Linked DNA regions of Homo sapiens: region 1 is linked to region 2. Evidence: fine-mapped expression QTL. A gene starts in region 2. The other region holds a variant in brackets. All regions are shown on one strand. Distances are between the middles of the regions. Region 1 overlaps DYRK3 (dual specificity tyrosine phosphorylation regulated kinase 3). Region 2 holds the start of DYRK3 (dual specificity tyrosine phosphorylation regulated kinase 3).

The links.
Region 1: its variant is fine-mapped to the expression of DYRK3 in blood mononuclear cells (TOPMed, PIP 0.95).

What each region holds. Positions count from the first base shown.
Region 1 is chr1:206,654,638-206,662,966 of GRCh38, reverse strand. DYRK3 (dual specificity tyrosine phosphorylation regulated kinase 3) reads right to left here. Exons shown (of 3, transcript NM_003582.4): 3 at 7,809-8,329. Among named protein-coding and RNA genes, the nearest start is that of DYRK3-AS1, 23 kb to the right of the region's middle. The variant G/A (reference allele first, on the strand shown) is at 4,318.
Region 2 is chr1:206,632,299-206,640,627 of GRCh38, reverse strand. DYRK3 (dual specificity tyrosine phosphorylation regulated kinase 3) reads right to left here and starts at 5,092. Exons shown (of 3, transcript NM_003582.4): 1 at 4,848-5,092; 2 at 2,867-2,978. The coding sequence starts at 4,924. It overlaps DYRK3-AS1 (DYRK3 antisense RNA 1), which reads left to right and starts at 4,960. Exons shown (of 2, transcript NR_183645.1): 1 at 4,960-5,028; 2 at 5,645-6,432. RefSeq lists silencers at 4,653-4,762, 4,813-5,232.

The DNA.
Region 1 (8,329 bases), 22 kb before region 2:
CTAGCAAGTCCTACTCATTAATGGAGTTGCAGTGCAAATATTACCTCTCTGAAGCCTTTTTTTAACACCTCTAGGAATGAGTCACTCTCTCCACTGCATTTTCCCAGAACTTTACTCGTACCTCCATTACACCTCCTACCAAACACACTTTAATCATTTCTACATATCTCTGTTCTGTTAGAATGTGAGTTCATTGAGAAGAAGAGGTGCTCTGAAGAGGTGTAGCCCAAGTTCCCAGTGCCTTTTACTTATGAGGCCGGTGAATTTTTATTGATGGATTGCTTGATTAATTAGGACATCACTCTTGGAGTTGGAAGACAGCTGTCATTCAGAGAACCCAGCAGGAATGACATTTAGGTAAACTGATCCTTCCCAGGTGAGGTGGACATAATATGTGGAGTCACATGGCTACAGTCACATGGGGATCTTTAACCATGCCTATTATGTAAAATCTCAGGGATGGAAGATCTGAAACTTGACCTTGGGGTGGATCATGTTGCTGAATGACATTCTGCTACAGTGAAGGAAAGTACTCCCAGCGCTCTGCTCACCTGTCCTCCAATCCCCTCCTCCACCCCGTCTCACATTCCCACTTCTTCCATGAAGCCTTCCCTGAACACTTCTGCTTCTGTCTCCCAGCTGGACTACCAGGTTGCTGAAAATCCATTTCTGCGTTTTATCCTTGGTACACGGCAAAATGGCTGTGCATGGTTTGTGCTCAAAAAAATGTTTACTGCCGGGTGGGTGCAGTGGCTCACTAATCCCTGCACTTTGGGAGGCCAAGTTGGGAGGATTGCTTGAGGCTAGAAGTTCAAAATCAGCATGAGCAACATAGCAAGACCCCATATCTACCAAAACAAACAAAAAAATTAGCTGGGCATGGTGGTGCGTGCCTGTAGTCTAAAGTAGCTGGGACTACAGGTGCACACCACCATGCCCAGCTAATTTTTGTATTTTTAGTAGAGACGGGGTTTCACCATGTTGGCCAGGATGGTCTCGATCTCTTGACCTTGTGATCCACCCGCCTCAGCCTCCCAAAGTGCTGGGATTACAGGCATGAGCCACTGCGCCTGGCCGTAAAGAAAAAAAAAATTAAAGTTTCTTGATGCTGATGAAATTGCCTGCTTAGGAGCATAGAGATTTGCTATATATACTCTTCGCCCCTCTGGATCCACTCTCCACCCTTCTACACTGTGCTCTGTGTGCCACGAGGATGGCATTTTTTTTTTTTTTTTTTTTTTTTTAGTGATGGGGATCTCACTATGTTGCCCAGGCTGGTCTTGAACTCATGGGCTCAAGTGATCCTCCCACCTTGGCCTCCCAAAGTGCTGGGACCGCAGGTGTGAGCCACCGCACCTGGCCAAGGATGGCATTTTTTGACTATGCCAACCAGACGTGGCTTCCGATTAAGTTAGGCCAATGGGAGGCACAGGAGTAAGATAAGCTGGCACTAGGATGAGGCCAGCACATTTATTCCCGTGATTTCTCCCCACTCTCCAGAGGTTGCAGTGCCTGCCATCCTCTACCAAAAGCCACAGCTTCTGTCAGGCAGGCAGCTCTCTCCTACAACCTCATCCACCGCTATTGCTCGCTAAGATTCCAGCAACCACTCCCTTCCTTCTGCCCCATGTGGCTATCCTGGGTGTACTTCACTGTCCCTTAGTAGTTTCCCGAAACCCTGCCCACATTTTATAAATGGTGTCTTCTTTCGACTACCCAGTTATCCTACCTTGAGGGGGATTAGATACAGTACCCTCAGGAATGTCTCTGACCCCCACATCTAGCTCCATGTTGTCAGGGCTCCCCAGATGCCTGCTTGACATTGGTGCATTGATCCCAACCTGGCTCAGAATCACATTTGTTGATTATATTCCAGGAAGTCAGATGCTTCTGCATATAGCCCAGTTCCACCTTGATTTCTTAAATTTCCCAACCAGAGAAAATGGGCATTTGTCCCCAGTGTTAGGATTAATCTCCATGGAGTCTGGAGTTCCAGAATAGTCCTTGAAATTACAAATTATACTGGTTTCCCTCCCTATATGTCCACTGTTTTTCTAGACCAATTAGATATGTAAACTTGTAGTTGGTTTTTTACAGAGGAGGGACAATTTCTCTCTTGAAAAAATTCTATTGGCCGGGTATGGTGGCTTATGCCTGTAATCCCAGCACTTTGGGAGGCAAAGGCAGGCAGATCACTTGAGGTCAGGAGTTCGAGACCAGCCTGGCCCACATGGTGAAACCCCGTCTCTACTAAAAATACAAAAAATAAGCCAGGCGTGGTGGTGCATGCTTGAATCCCAGCTATTTGGGAGGCTGAGGCAGGAGAATCTTTGAACCCGGGAGGCAGAGGTCACAGTGAGCCAAGATCATACCATTGTACTCCAGCCTGGGCGACAAGAGCACAACTCCATCTCAAAAAAAAAAAAAACAAAAAAAAACTATTATCTAGTTGAGAGCTATTGAATGTGTCCTGCCTGCCCATGCCATGGCCATCGCTCTAGCTCGGGCTCCTGGAGTTCAGGCATCTTGGGGCCTACGACAACTCCTGTTCCCTCCACTCCCCATTCCACAGCACTGTATCATCCCACAGAGCAAGTTTTCTGTCCCTTCAGGATCCCTAGACGCCCCTATCCAGCCAACCCACTGCAATGAACAGGTGTTCTGGGGGTTGCACTGGTCCAACCACAATATATGTGGTACTTTCCTCAGCAACAGGATCTGAGCAAATGAGCCTCTTGACTCAAGGTCCCCCAACATCTCAGGGAACTCAGATCTGAACAGGGAGGTCTTCAGCTTGCTGAATCCTTTAACCTAGTTCTGGAACTTCAGTAAAAAGAAGTGAAACTTCTCCCAGGAGCCTCCCACTGTCTCCTGGCCTAAATTGCCTAGAGGGCCCTGGGAGTGGGATCTGAGACATGCTGCCTAAGGGGAAACTGAGGCCTAGAAAGGAGAAGCAGCCACAGGCCTGAGTCCCAGGAGAGAGGCGTGGGAGGAGGGAGAAGTGTCTGTGTTGCTGGAGATAGGCAGATGCTAGCATTCTGAGCTGGAAGGGGTGGAGGAGGGGGCAGGAATGCATGAAGGGGGTCAAAGCTATGGGAAAGAAAAAGATATGCAATGGTGTGTGTGTGTGTGTGTGTGTGTGTGTGTGTGTGTGTGTGCGCGCGCACGCACCGGGTGGGGTGTGACGGAAACAACGGCTTTGGCCAAATTAAGATTTAGTCCTGGAACTTCTGCCAAGCTTTTTCTCCCTTCCAGTCATCTGCCCTTACCAACGTTAGGCAGTCACAGTGTCCTTACGAACGTTATCACCCTTTCCCAGTGCCCACAGCTGGAGGCTGATAGCTGGAGGCGGACTGGCACTGGGGCAAAGTCCGCCTGTCCGGCTCCCTTCCTGGCCCACTCCCTCCCTGGCCCGAATTGCCCCTGCCCACTGGGCCTCCCTGTCCACCAGGCCCTGTAAAGAAGAGCTGGCACCCTCACCCCACAGCTCCTCATGCCAGGACAGATACCTGAGCTGGGAGATCACCCGACCTCTCTTTTTAACCCGCCTCGGCTCATGTGACGGGCTGGAGTCCAGGCAGACATATGCAGGTCAGGCATCCAGGCAGGCCACACAGCGCTATTTATTTCCTACTGGGTTCTCTTCACGCAGAGCTGGCAGGGTGGGACTTTCTCATTGTATTTAAGCCCCAGCTGGCGCCACAGAACTGCCCCAGCCTCAGCCTTTGCCCCTTTTCCAACCCAGTAGGTAAAAATAAACCCATTTGGCAGCTTTGGGGAGTGGGATGGGGACTGCTGAAAAGGCGCTGTAAACACGGCAGTGGGGGCGGGGTGGGGTTGGTCGCAGCAGGGAGGGGTCATAAACCCTGGCTCTGCTGTGAACTAAAGGGACGGGTGCTTGGTCTCTCCAGCTGGGCACTCTGCCTCCCACTTCTTCAGCTGGGAAGAGCCTGGGCACCATTCATTCGCAATCTCTGAGGCAGAAGGCACTGGAGATAGTGAGTGGTCACTGGTGCTGCGGGGTGGTGGCTAGGGTAGAAAGAAGGGAAACAAAGAGAAGTAAATGGTCATGGCTAGTGAGGGACGCTTCGTCCGAATGGGTCTTTTGAGGAACACTTGGCTAGGACACTAGTTCATGTCTACCATCATATGTATCTCACTGTACTTCAATTCTTAACATGTTTGACCTTCCATTAAATATGTGTGTTATGTTTGAATAGATCCAGCACAGCGCCTGGCCCACCGAGTACACTGGGCATTTACTGAGCGACTGAAGAGAAGGCAGAGAAAGGTGGAGGCGGGGCCTGGCGCCCCCTG[G/A]GGGGAGCCCCGTGAAAGTGCAGCCGCAGGGGTTGGGGAGGTAGGACATTTCCCACCCAGGAGGCTCCCGCAGCTGTTCCCTACCAGGTTTCTAACTTTACAACTTCGACTCTGTGGTCTGGGAAATCTCCGCCTTGTGTCTCCCTCCGGCCCCGGCCCAGCTTTCCCAGCGACAGCGGCGCCTCCCCTTCTGAATGTAGTAGAATTTAAGCCTGGGACTAAATAAAGAACAGAGGAAGTCCTCTCTTTGAAATGCAGCTGCCCCAGGCCAGGTTGGGCTAGGAAGGGGTAGCAGTAGAGTGTGTGACACAGCGGTTGGGAAACAGTTGTGACTGCAGGAAGACCCACCACGGAAGCGCCTGCCCCTCATTATTTTAGCAGCATTGAGGGGAAGCACCTGTGGTCCATTGCGCTTCTTGGTCCTCCAAAGAGCTCTGAAGCCTCCTCCCTCTCACTCATGCCACTTTGCCTGGACATCTCGCTGGCATTTTACAGCAACTAGTGACTTCAGTTCCAACGGGAAAAGGGATGAATGAAGAGTGTTTGCTGAGAGGGGAATGGAACCAGGACAATGTGGGACGCTGGCTCAAAAACTCGGGTGAAAGATCTCAGGGATGAGGTTTCTGAATTCATCTCGTGTATTCACCTCAGTCTCAAGTCTCTGGCTGGGATTGTTGGTGGGACAGAAGTAAGCAATGTTGTTTTAGCAACCAGAGAAAACAGCAACGCAGCCAGCTACTTGTTGAGGGAAATGAGGGAATCGGGGAAGAGAAGTGGGGAAGAGAAGTAGGGAAGCCTGGTCTGCTGGTTCCTCCTCCCCTGCAGATCTCAGGATGGCTAATCTGGGATAGAATCAGTTTGATGAGGGAGCAGAAAAAGCCAAACCCCTGATCTGAAATCATGGCAGAGAAACCTGAAGGGTAACCCCATTTCATCTTCAACGTCAGAAACGGAGGGTGGTGAGAGCCAAGTTGCTACTGGATAGCATGTCTTCCATGCCTTTCATTCCTACCATCTTTTCTCCTCCACCTTCAGCTCAGGACACAAGCCCCTTACTCTATACTATGCACAGACTCAGAGAACATTCTCTTCTGAAACTATCTCCCCTCCCCATCCCATTCACTTACAGAGTTACACAAATTTTAAACCAGAACAGAGTGCAGATAACTTGCTGGCAAGTTTTCTCTAAAGCCATGGCCTAGCTTTTGTTAGATTCTAAACATATGGTCAACAATGCTGCTGACGCTCCCTATCCTTGATAAATGCCATTAGGGTGCTTTTTTTGCACACAACAGTTGCTCAAGTCACTGGTGAAAGAATCAATGCACCAACAAAAGCCTATATAGACATGCTTGAGAACAGCAAAAGTGAGTGCAGCTTGGGTCAGGGCTCCACCCTGGGAATGATTAAGAATTCTCTGCAGTGGTTCAGATTGGGTGTCCTGGATCTGCTCCTCAATCAGGAGATCATCAACAGCCAGATTCAAAGGCAGGGCTGGGCAGCCTCTGCAAAACGAGGTCAAATCATGTCCAGGCTCACTCTACTGGAAGGTCAAGGTCAGTCCTTAGCATCTGCACAGACTAGCTGCAGTCACTTTATGTTTCTGCTTTTGGACTGACAAATTCCTTCCTAGAAAGTAAAAAGCAATGGGCAATGCACTAGTAGCCCTCATTGCCATTTTCACTGCCTTTTCTACGCGCTGATAGTTTTTGTCTTAAAAGGCATAAAGAGCCATGGGAGTATCCTGGTTTGTGGTGCCTTTGATCATGGGGTTTTTGTTGTTTTGTTTTGTTTTCGAGACAGAGTCTCCCACTGTTGCCCGGGCTGGAGTGCAACCTCGGCTCACTGCAACCTCCGCCTCCTGGGTTCAAGCGATTCTCCTGCCTCAGCCTCCCGTGTAGCTGGGATTACAGGTGTGTGCCACCACATCCAGCTAATCTTCTGTATTTTTTGTAGAGACAGGGTTTCACTGTGTTGGCCAGGCTGGTCTTGAACTCCTGACCTCAGGTGATCCACCCGCCTCGGCCTCCCAAAGTGCTGGGATTACAGGCTTGAGCCGCCGCACCCGGCCTGATCATGGGTAAATTTTAACAGCGATATTGCAAGCTGAATTTTCTTTTAAATTCTGCCTGCTCTATAATTCCGCTAGCAGCAATTAATGTCTCCAACCTGGAGTTGCTCCATGTGAGTATAGGAAGGTCCATGTCTAGCTTTAGGCTGGGGTCCCATAAGGCAGAAACCCTGTTCAAGAATCCAGGGAAAGCTGAGAACAGTGGCTCATGCCTATAATCCCAGCACTTTGGGAGGCTGAGATGGGCAGATGGCTTGAGGCCAGGAGTTCGAGACCAGCCTGGCCAACGTGGTGAAACCCCATCTTTACAAAAAAAAAAAAAAAAAAAAAATGCACAAGCACACAAAAAATTGGCCAGGCGTGGTGTTTCATGCTTGTAATCCCAACACTTTGGGAGGCCGAGGCGGGTGGATTACCCGTCAGGAGTTCAAAACCAGCCTGGCCAACATGGTGAAACCCCATCCCTATCAAAAATACAAAAAATTAGCTGGGTGTTATGGCGCATGCCTGTGGTCCCAGCTACTTGGGAGGCTGAGGCAGGAGAATCATTTAACCTGGGAGGCAGAGGCTGCAGTGAGCCGAGATCGTGCCACTGCACTCCAGCCTAGGCAACAGAGTGAAACTCCATCTTCAAAATAAAAATAAATACATAAAATTAGCTGGGCATGGTGATACATGCCTGTAGTCCCAGCTACTTGGGAGGCTGCAGTGGGAGGATCACCTGAGGCCAGGGAGGTTAAGGCTGGAGTGAACTGTATTCGTGCCACAACAATCTAGGGGACAACTCAAGGGTGGCGGAAGGCAGTCCCTGTTAGGTATCCAATTAGCTCCTGTTGCCAGGGCAATTGTGGCTCAGGGCCAGATCAGAAGCAGGCTGGAGCAGAGCCCACAACCCCTAAGAACATTGTTTTCCTCTTTCATTTACTCAATTCCCTCAGGCTTTAAAAGTTATCCCACAGACTGGGGTCTGGGCCTAAGAAAAACACCCAAACTTCCCAAATAAACTGTATTCCTTATTGCGTGTCAGGTTTCATCCTTAAGCTGAGCTTGGGCCCCAAGAGGGTAAATGGGAGAGCTGCTGATTCGGGTTTCTGGGAGATGGTTAGCCCTGAGCACTCTACATGTTTTCCCATTTTCCTTCACAGCAAGGCTGGAGCTCACAAACCAGACTGTGAACAGAAGCTCTGGGTACTAAAGGAAGAATACTGGTGGACTCTCTGTAAGGCTGTTTCTCAGGGCAGCCTTTTCCCTTCCCAAGATTTTCTTTCTGTATCATTGTCATCAAGCAAGAGAGGCTGTACCTGCAGCACAGCCCTAATTACCCAGCGACTGGTACTCACCTCCTTCAGAGTACAGCACACAAGTTCCTGCCTGCGACAGTTCTCAGCCTTGGTTTTGAAACAATCAGGATGCTAAAAAATTCTCAAAGCAATTCATTTTTATTTTTTAAAAAACACCCCAAAATAAAAAACCACTGACTCATCCATGCCAAACTGCACTTTCCAGAGGAAGCATGTCAGCAGACTCAAACGGACAATGGACAGAATCCCATGACACCAAAGTCATTCAAACCTGATGCTTCAGAGGCTGACATTCTGAGCTGAAATAGCCACAGGTCACCACTTGGCCTGATGTGGGACTCTCCTTTCTTTTTAGTCTATTCATGTGGTGGCAGAAGATGTGAGACTCTAGTCTCCAGTCAGGGAGGCTTCTCCTGTTATAGAAAAATATTAGAGTCTAGGCTTGACTTAGCGATGGGTGGGCTATATTAAGAATCATACCCTGCTTCTTCAAAGTCTAGACGATGCATTTGTAGTTCTGGCTTCTCTCAGGGGTTGTGGATCTCAGGGACCAGAGAGAGCTTTTAGTCCTTTTATGGATGGGTTCACTGTGACTCTAAAATCTTTTCTCATTGAAATTAGCCAGCATAATTTGACAGAC
Region 2 (8,329 bases):
AATGAGCCGAGATAGTGCCACTGCACTCCAGCCTCAGTGACAGAGCGAGACTCTGTCTTAAAAAAAAAAAAAAAAAAAAATCTTGCTGAGAAATTGAAAAGGAATAAAGGAATATCCTTCTCACTCAGATATAAAACCCTACCTTTTCCCCAGCTCCCAAACCCTAAATCCCTGTAACACAAAACTTAACCCAATAAAAGCCTATGGGCAGATGATTTATAGTTTACCATGAGAATGTAGGAGCATCTTGAATAAATGAAGCTAGAAAACTTTGTAAAAAAAAGTAACAGGATCTCGGGATAGAGTCATGGCATAATGAAATGTAAGTGGCACCAAGAGGTCAAAAGGCATTTTTTATTTTTATTTTCTTTTTCAGCAAAATGAGTAAAGACAGCCAGGCGTGGTGGCTCACGCCTGTAAAGCCTGCACTTTGGGAGGCTGAGGTGGGTGGATGACCTGAGGTCAGGGGTTCGGGACCATCCTGGCCAACATGGTGAAACCCCATCTCTACTAAAAATACAAAAATTAGCCAGGCATGGTGGCAGATGCCTGTAATCCCAGCTACTTGGGAGGCTGAGGCAGGGAGAACTGCTTGAACCCGGGAGATGGAGGTTGCAGCAAGCCAAGATTGTGCCACTGCACTCCAGCCTGGGCGAGAGAGCGAGACTCGGTCTCAAAAAAAAAAAAAAAAAAAAAAAAGAAATGAGTAATGAGTAAGACATCTAAAATCTTCTTGCTCCCTCACAAAACTGTCATGCCTAACACCATGCAGTAAGAAATTAATTTTTGATCCTGAAACATACAATGTAAGTAACCTACTGGAAGGTAAATAGCATCGGCTAACTCTGAATCAAAGTAAAAATGACTTGGCTGGGCGCGGTGGCTTGCGCCTGTAATCCCAGCACTTTGGGGAGCTGAGGTGGGTGCATCACAAGGTCAGGAGTTCAAAACCAGCCTGACCAATACAGTGAAACCCCATCTCTACTAAAAATACAAAAATTAGCCAGGCATGTTGGTTGGTGCCTATAATCCCAGCTACTTGGGAGGGTGAAGCAGGAGAATCACTTGAACCCGGGAGGTTGCAGTAAGCCAAGATTGCGCCACTGCACTCCAGCCTAGGTGACAGAGTGAGAGTCCATCTCAAAAAAAAAAAAAAAAAAAATCAGTTAAAATGACTTAAAGTCAGATGTTAACACTTCAACCCAATTGCAAATAGTTTCCTATAGAGGTGAACCAATTGGCAGCAAGTAACCAAGCAATCTGATGGGCAACACAAGATGTATATGGTTCTGAAGTTCTTAGACATTTTGACATATTAAAGAAACAACTTGCAAAGAATGGAAAGAAACCCCACTACACTCCAAAAAGGGGACGAAAAATAGGGTGACCAGCCTTCAAAATATTTTTAGCTCACGTTTTGTATACTACTAGTGTTGAAAGTGGGGAAAGGGCCGGGTGCGGTGGCTCACGCCTGTAATCCCAGCACTTCCAGAGGCCGAGGGAAGTGGACCACTTAAGGTCAGGAGTTAGACCAGCCTGACTAACATGGTGAAACCCTGTCTCTACTAAAAATACAAAACTTAGCTGGGTGTGGTGGCAGTCGCCTGTAATCCCAGCTACTCAGGAAGGCTGAGGCAGGAGAATTGCTTGGACCCGGGAGGTGGAGGTTGCAATGAGCTGACATGACACCACTGCACTCCAGCCTGGAAGACAGAGTAAGACTGCGTCTCAGGAAAAAAAAAAAAAAAAAAAAGGAAAAAGGTTGATTTTAAGCAAAAACTGATGACCACAGGAAGGACTATGAAAAATAGAAGTGATTTTTCCATATAGAAACAATTTCAGGTCTTAAACACAGAAACGTGAAAGAGAAATATTACAAATGAGTCAATTCAATTATTCAGTTTGTTCATCTGATGACATATGCAGGAAATTTTAAAGTCATAGGATAGCCTCTCTTTGTCATGGAACTTGGCCAAACCCTGCTCTGCCTACCACTCTATGCATGCTGAAGGAATGCAAATTAATTTTATCTTAAGTTAAAAAAAAAAAAAAGCTGCCAAGCACGGTGGCTCACGCCTGTAATCCCAGCACTTTGGGAAGCCGAGGCGGGTGGATCACGAGGTCAGGAGTTCAAGACCAGCCTGACCAACATGGTGAAACCCCTGACTACTAAAAATACAAAAATTAGCCAGGCGTGGTGGCACGCGCCTGTAATCCCAGCTACTCAGGAGGCTAAGGCAGGAGAATCACTTCAACCCGGGAGGCAGAGGTTGCAGTGAGCCAAGATCATGCCATTGCACTCCAGCCTGGGTGACAGAGAGAGACTCCACCTCAAAAAAAAAAAAAAAAAAAAAAAAGCTAAGTGTCTGCAGTCCCCAAAATGATTAAGTGCATTAAAAACCAAACTGTTGTAGTTATCATCTATCTATAAAATGGTTCTCTTTAGTATACTAATAAACGAAGACTGCATTTCCACCGTGCAGGGGAAAAAAAACTCCTGCAGATCTATGAATTCTGACATGTTTTCTGTTTCTTATTTTTGTTAAAAGGAGCCTTTGTAATACTAGGTGTATATCATCCTATACAAAAATAAGCATTACCTAAATAAAAGTAGCATATTATTTTTTTCCTAGTGCTATATATTTATCCCAGTGGAAACTGAAATAAAAAGGTGAGCTCCAAACTGAAATCATTCTGAAAAGCTAAATTTGGACCACAGACATTGTTATTCCAAAGTCAAGAGAAATCAAAAATAAACCAAAAAAAAGTCTGGTTGTCAGTGATACATAAGTGTACCTTGAGCATTAAGTAGCACTTCCTCCTTTCCAAAACAATTCATGTACAAAGAATGACTTCTTTTACTTACATTTAGTCTTCTGGGTGGAGGTGGTTCAGAAGGATTGCAGAGTACATTTGAACAGGGGGGACATTTGGTTTCATCTATCATCATGAAGGTGTCATAGACACCATCCCCCAACCTAGTTAAAAGGATTACAGACAAAATCTGTCAGGAACTGAAGAATATAGAATCCTATGTCTTAACTGCTTCATATCTGCTACAAGGAACAGTAATAGAAATAAATGTCTACACTACATTTTGGCACTGAATACAAACAACTGGGGTATTTGGAAGAGGTACAGAGGAAATCCAACTTTTGTTTTTCAAGGACAGCATTTCTAGGTTTGTATTTTAAAACAGTTGAAACAAGTCCTTCTGAATGTTGTTAAACACAATAAGGACTATCAGAAGGATCTCATAATAACTTACTACTTGAAAATAAAGGCTAGTTTGAAACTGAAGCTCACAGAGAAAAAAACAGACCAGAAAAAACTAACAGAGGTAATAGTTTCTCAAGTCAGAGACTTGGATTCTAATCTCAGCTCTAACACTGGCTGTGCTACCTTCTCCTCTGAGCCTGTCTTCCCCAGTGCTACCTTCTCCTCTGAGCCTGTCTTCCCCATGTTAATGGGAAGACTAGCTCCAGTCTTCACACTTCTGGGTCTTACAGGCAAGAAATAAAAGGCCTTTTTAAGGCTGTCTTCTCTTTATTCATTTACTTACTTACCTACTTACATCTACCTAACCTGCAGAAAAATACAGTAAGTACTACAGCAAACGCTAAAAGGATGCTCTAAATTATAAAATGTATTGAATTTACTTCTCTTTCCACTTCATTTTCTGGTGGATGGTGGAGGCAAAATTCTAAATGATTAAGGATCACTTCTCTGTTCTTTAACACTGTGGCTCCACCACTGTAAGGGAACACAAAAGACGGAGAGGATTTATTTAATCCACAAGATGGCCCTGAATAATGTATTTCATCTGCTACCAAGAACACGGATTTCCCAGTTACACACATCAGCATTTCATTGTATCATTTTACATGATACACTATGAATATAACAATGATGATGTTGCAGAGGAATAATTTTTTAACGTCTTTTAAAATATCCTGGAATATTCTGGTCACCTTAAAAACTGTTTTGTGAAATTCATTCTAGAGTTTTCTTTATAGATGTGTTATAAAAATATAAAGGGAAAAAAACCGCTACAAATATTTTTGGAATGCTCTTTTTAAAAACATGCTCACATTCTGATAGAATTATTTATATTTTTAACAGGGAATGGCTTCACCAACAGAAACCAAATATTCTGGATGTGACTGACCCTTTGCCATAAGCCTGATAAAACAAACCAGGATAGGCGTCCACATATATAAAGAAAAAGAAAACGTGCAAAATTGCCTAGTGACTAACAGCCAGAGGAAATTAACAAGAGTCTGCATGCAAATAAAGCGGGGAGCAAGGGTCTCTTCTCTCCATTTAGGTGTAAAATACAACGCAAGGTGGGGAATCTCTCAAAATAGGATCCGGAGAAAGCCGTACCCAGCATAGCCCATAACCTGTACATTCGAAGCTAGACCGCACCCCTCACAGCAAACCCCAAGAGTTCAGCCGTTGGTTATCCGCTCTAAGCAACAGGGCTTCTTTCCAAGGTATTGCTCCCGGGCTCCCCCCCTTTAATAAAAAGCCCCACAAAAAGTCCTAGATTTTCGTAATCCCTTAACATATACCCCGATCTAGGGTTTCAGAGGGAATCCAGGGGTGGAAATTCTTCTTGCTCTAACTCCGCTCTAGCCCCGTCCCCCGCGCCCGGTGAGACAGGGATGGGGGGAGGGGGCCCTGATAGAGAGGAGGTGGGGGCGGTCCCGGGGAGGCAGTCAGACCCCTGCCCTCGTCCCTCCTACTGAGGGCTCACTCTACCTCCTCCCCACCCCCAAGCTTCGCTTGCCAGCGCCAGCCGCTCCCTGTGGCGCCTCCAGCCCGTTACCCCGTGGCGCCGTTACCTCCGCTGCTGGGGCGGGAGCCCGGCCCCAGGCGGCCCCGCATCCTTCCGCCCAGGCCCACGAGCTGTGCCTCCCATCTCCTAGCTCGGGACCCCGCGCGGGGAGAGGCGCCAGTTGGGGGTCCGGTCGGCCACGCCACCTACGCCGGGACGGCTGCCTCCGCGGCGCGACGCTCCCACGGGTACTCTCGACCAGACACTGCAGCTCAGCGCACTTTCGCTCCCGACTGGCCCCGGCTGGGAAGTGGGGAGACGCAGCTCCAGGGGCGGGAGGGGGAGCGGTCTGGTCGCCTAGCAACCGCGGCACGCCCCCGGGAAACGCCTCGGCGCAGCTACGGGCTGACGCACAGGGGCGGGGCCCGTGGCCGGTAAAGGCCACGCGGCGCTCCTAGCGGGTGCTAGTACTGGCGCGGGAGGCGGGAGGTTGGAGGCGAGGAGCTCGCGGCCTAGGCTGTTTGGGTCCCTGGCGCGAGCTGTAGACGGAGAGAGGGGTCCGGAGAAGGAGGGGTGAAAGTAGCAGTTAGCCCGCGATCTCAGAAGGGCTGCCCGCCCCTCACGGTCCCTTAATAGCACGTTGCGTCCTGGAAGTTCTAAAACGTCCCGCTTCAATATGAATTTTAAATTAGTGAAAACATATGTGTATTGTTTTAGGCTTTCCCACCGCGGGGACGGCCCTCCGGGGGTTGGTGAGTTACATAAGAAAGCAATAATAATAAACCCATTTATTGACACGATGCTTCCATTTATGAACATTTGATCTCAGTAACGGAGGTACCCGACGACTTTCGTCTTTTACAGACTTAGCTGGGATGCAGAATAGAAGCTGGGCCTTTGTCTGACTACCCTGCAACAGTCAGCCACAGACGGGAAGGCAGCGCAGGAAACTGAGGCCAAAGGAGCCGCGCTTCCTCATGAGCATGAAGCGGCAAAGCCTGAACTAGAAGCTTCTAACGCCTAACCGTCCTCTTGCCGCACCAGGACCTACCTCTGCAAGGCCCTTCCTGACTTTTTCCTTAGAATGTGTGTATATGTGTCTTTTTCCTTTTCTGATGCTAAGACACCTCAGAAACACCAATGTTAAGCAGATTTCCATCGTTGGAGGTTAAAACACCCGAATACAAGTGTTTTCTTGAGTGTGGCATCTGGTCAGATGTTTTATGGGTTGGTTTGTTTTTAAAAAAAAAAAATTTCCTGTTAGATGGGTGGTAAGAACCAGTCAGAGTTTGTAAACCCACCAAGCACGAGGCGGTCGGACCGTCCAGATTCTGGAGTCCAGAAGACACCAAACGTTCTCAGAATGCCGAACGCGGGCGCCACCTGGTGGGACTAGAACGCTTATTGTCCCAAATCAGCATAGCACACAGTTCCCATAAATCTTAAAAATTCCCATCCAAGGCTCATTTCCGTGTGACTAAAAGTCATATTCTCTGTTCTCGTGACTCCAAGTAAAAATGTCCCTAAAGAGCCAAAGTATCTTCACTGTATAAACTAATAATCTATTGGTTTGGGGAATTTTATTTTTTGTGATCAATGTTACTTTAGCCTTTCTATGATATACATATAAATAAAAAAGTTTTCTTCCATGATGATTTTTTAAAGTTTATTTTATAAATAAACTTTTTCTTTTTGTCTCTCCCTTCCCCCACTTTGCAACCAGAGCAATTCTGCTTTCACAGGGGTTTGTATTTGGGCTCTTACGAAGCTTTTGTTTGAAGAAAGAGTTCCATGGCAACGCAAAGATTGGACGAGGTTACTGTTGAAGTCCCTTCCAGCTCTAAGATTGCAAAATTCTATTAAATAATCCCCGTTCTCAGTACTTATGTAGACACCTCAGACCACTTTACTGCCCTCCCTAAACAGTTGAATGAGACTTGCCCCCACATGATTTCTTACCTCATTCTGAATCACTGCTCGTGAGAGGATTGCATCCGCAGTCTGTGCTTAAGACACATCTTCCAGAGCCAAGTGGAAGGGTTCCTGCTCCCTTTCTTGCTCCTAAGGTGGGAAATACAGAGGCCGCCTTTGTCTTTCGCCTATTGTTCCCATGGTCAAGGGAAAGAGGACTCCTCGAGGGTGCTGGAGCTTCATAAATCTCTGACCTTAGTGACCCAATGTTTCTTCAAAGATCCCCTGTATGATGGGGTTAACGTCCCATAAGGGATCTGGCAGGAGCCTCCACACCCCTGCTGAGCGCTGCCCTGTCCCCTCCAGCTCCCAAGCAGCTTCCACATCATTCATGCCCTTTCTTCCCCTCCAAAGCCTCATTCAAGAGTAGTTTAAAATCACCATTATCATTCTCCATGCAGTTAAAGTCAGATTTACCCACCATGAATTAGCCAAAAGTCATATAAGATGCATGTCTGTCCTTTGAAGCCAATTCCAAGACATCTGCAAAATAAGGTACCTGCAAGTTCTAATACATTGACTAAGGAAATAAACAACAGTAAAAAAGATGCAACTATTCCAGGATCTTAAAAACCCACTGGGACATTCACAATGTGATCAAAGTTTCAAATGCACAGATTAAGAAAACATCCCCGTGGCCACATTTACCTGGAATTTTGTGATAAAATAGCTGTTAGTAGGTTATGTTAAGTTTGGACAAGTTTCATTGACATTTCTGTACAGCAAAATGTGCCATAATGCCTACTGTGACATGTGCATCACAGAATTGGAAAATATTTTTTAAAAATCACTGGAGAGAACCAGTGAAACTTACTTTTTTCCTCAAGCTATGTTAACCTCAAATTGACCCGTGTTCCTGAAATGTATACTTGCTATTTTTTTCAGAAACACTGAAATCTAGCTCACTGGAACACTAAAGCCATGGCTTATTTTTCTGGAGCCTCAGAAAACTGTCTCTCTTCTATACCTCAGGCATCTCCTGTTCTTATGCCCTCCCCTCTCCACCAAGATTTGAAAAATGCCCCTTATTAACAAAGCAAACAAAAGCCATGCCCGCAGTGCTGTAGTACAGCTACAACTAAGACACACTTAGTTCTGTGTCTCCTAAACCCTAAAGGTTGTCCTTATTATCACAAACTCTTCACCTATTTTTCTTTTCCAAAACTTTTGCCATCTTTTTCCACTTGTTCCTCCTAAGTCAGCGTGACCAGTTCCACCTATAGCCCTGAGGGGTCCTATGAAGCTTCATTTCTGAAATCTTGAAACCAAACCAGGAGTCTTTCTAATCATCATTACCATTTGCTAAGTATTTATTATGTTCCAAGCACTATCTGAAGCACTTTAACATATTTGCTCATTTAAAACTCACAGTAGTCCCGTGAGATAGGTATTATCTCCATCCTACACTTCAGAAAACAGTCTCAGAGTTTAATAACTTGCCCAAGGTCACCCAGCCAGTAAGTGATGAACTGAAATTCAAACCCTGGTCTGTTTGGTTGAAAAACTCAGCCCCTCGACTGCCTGTATTCCACCTGTATTCCCTGAGCCTGGCAGGCTAGCCCAGGCTAGACCACTGGA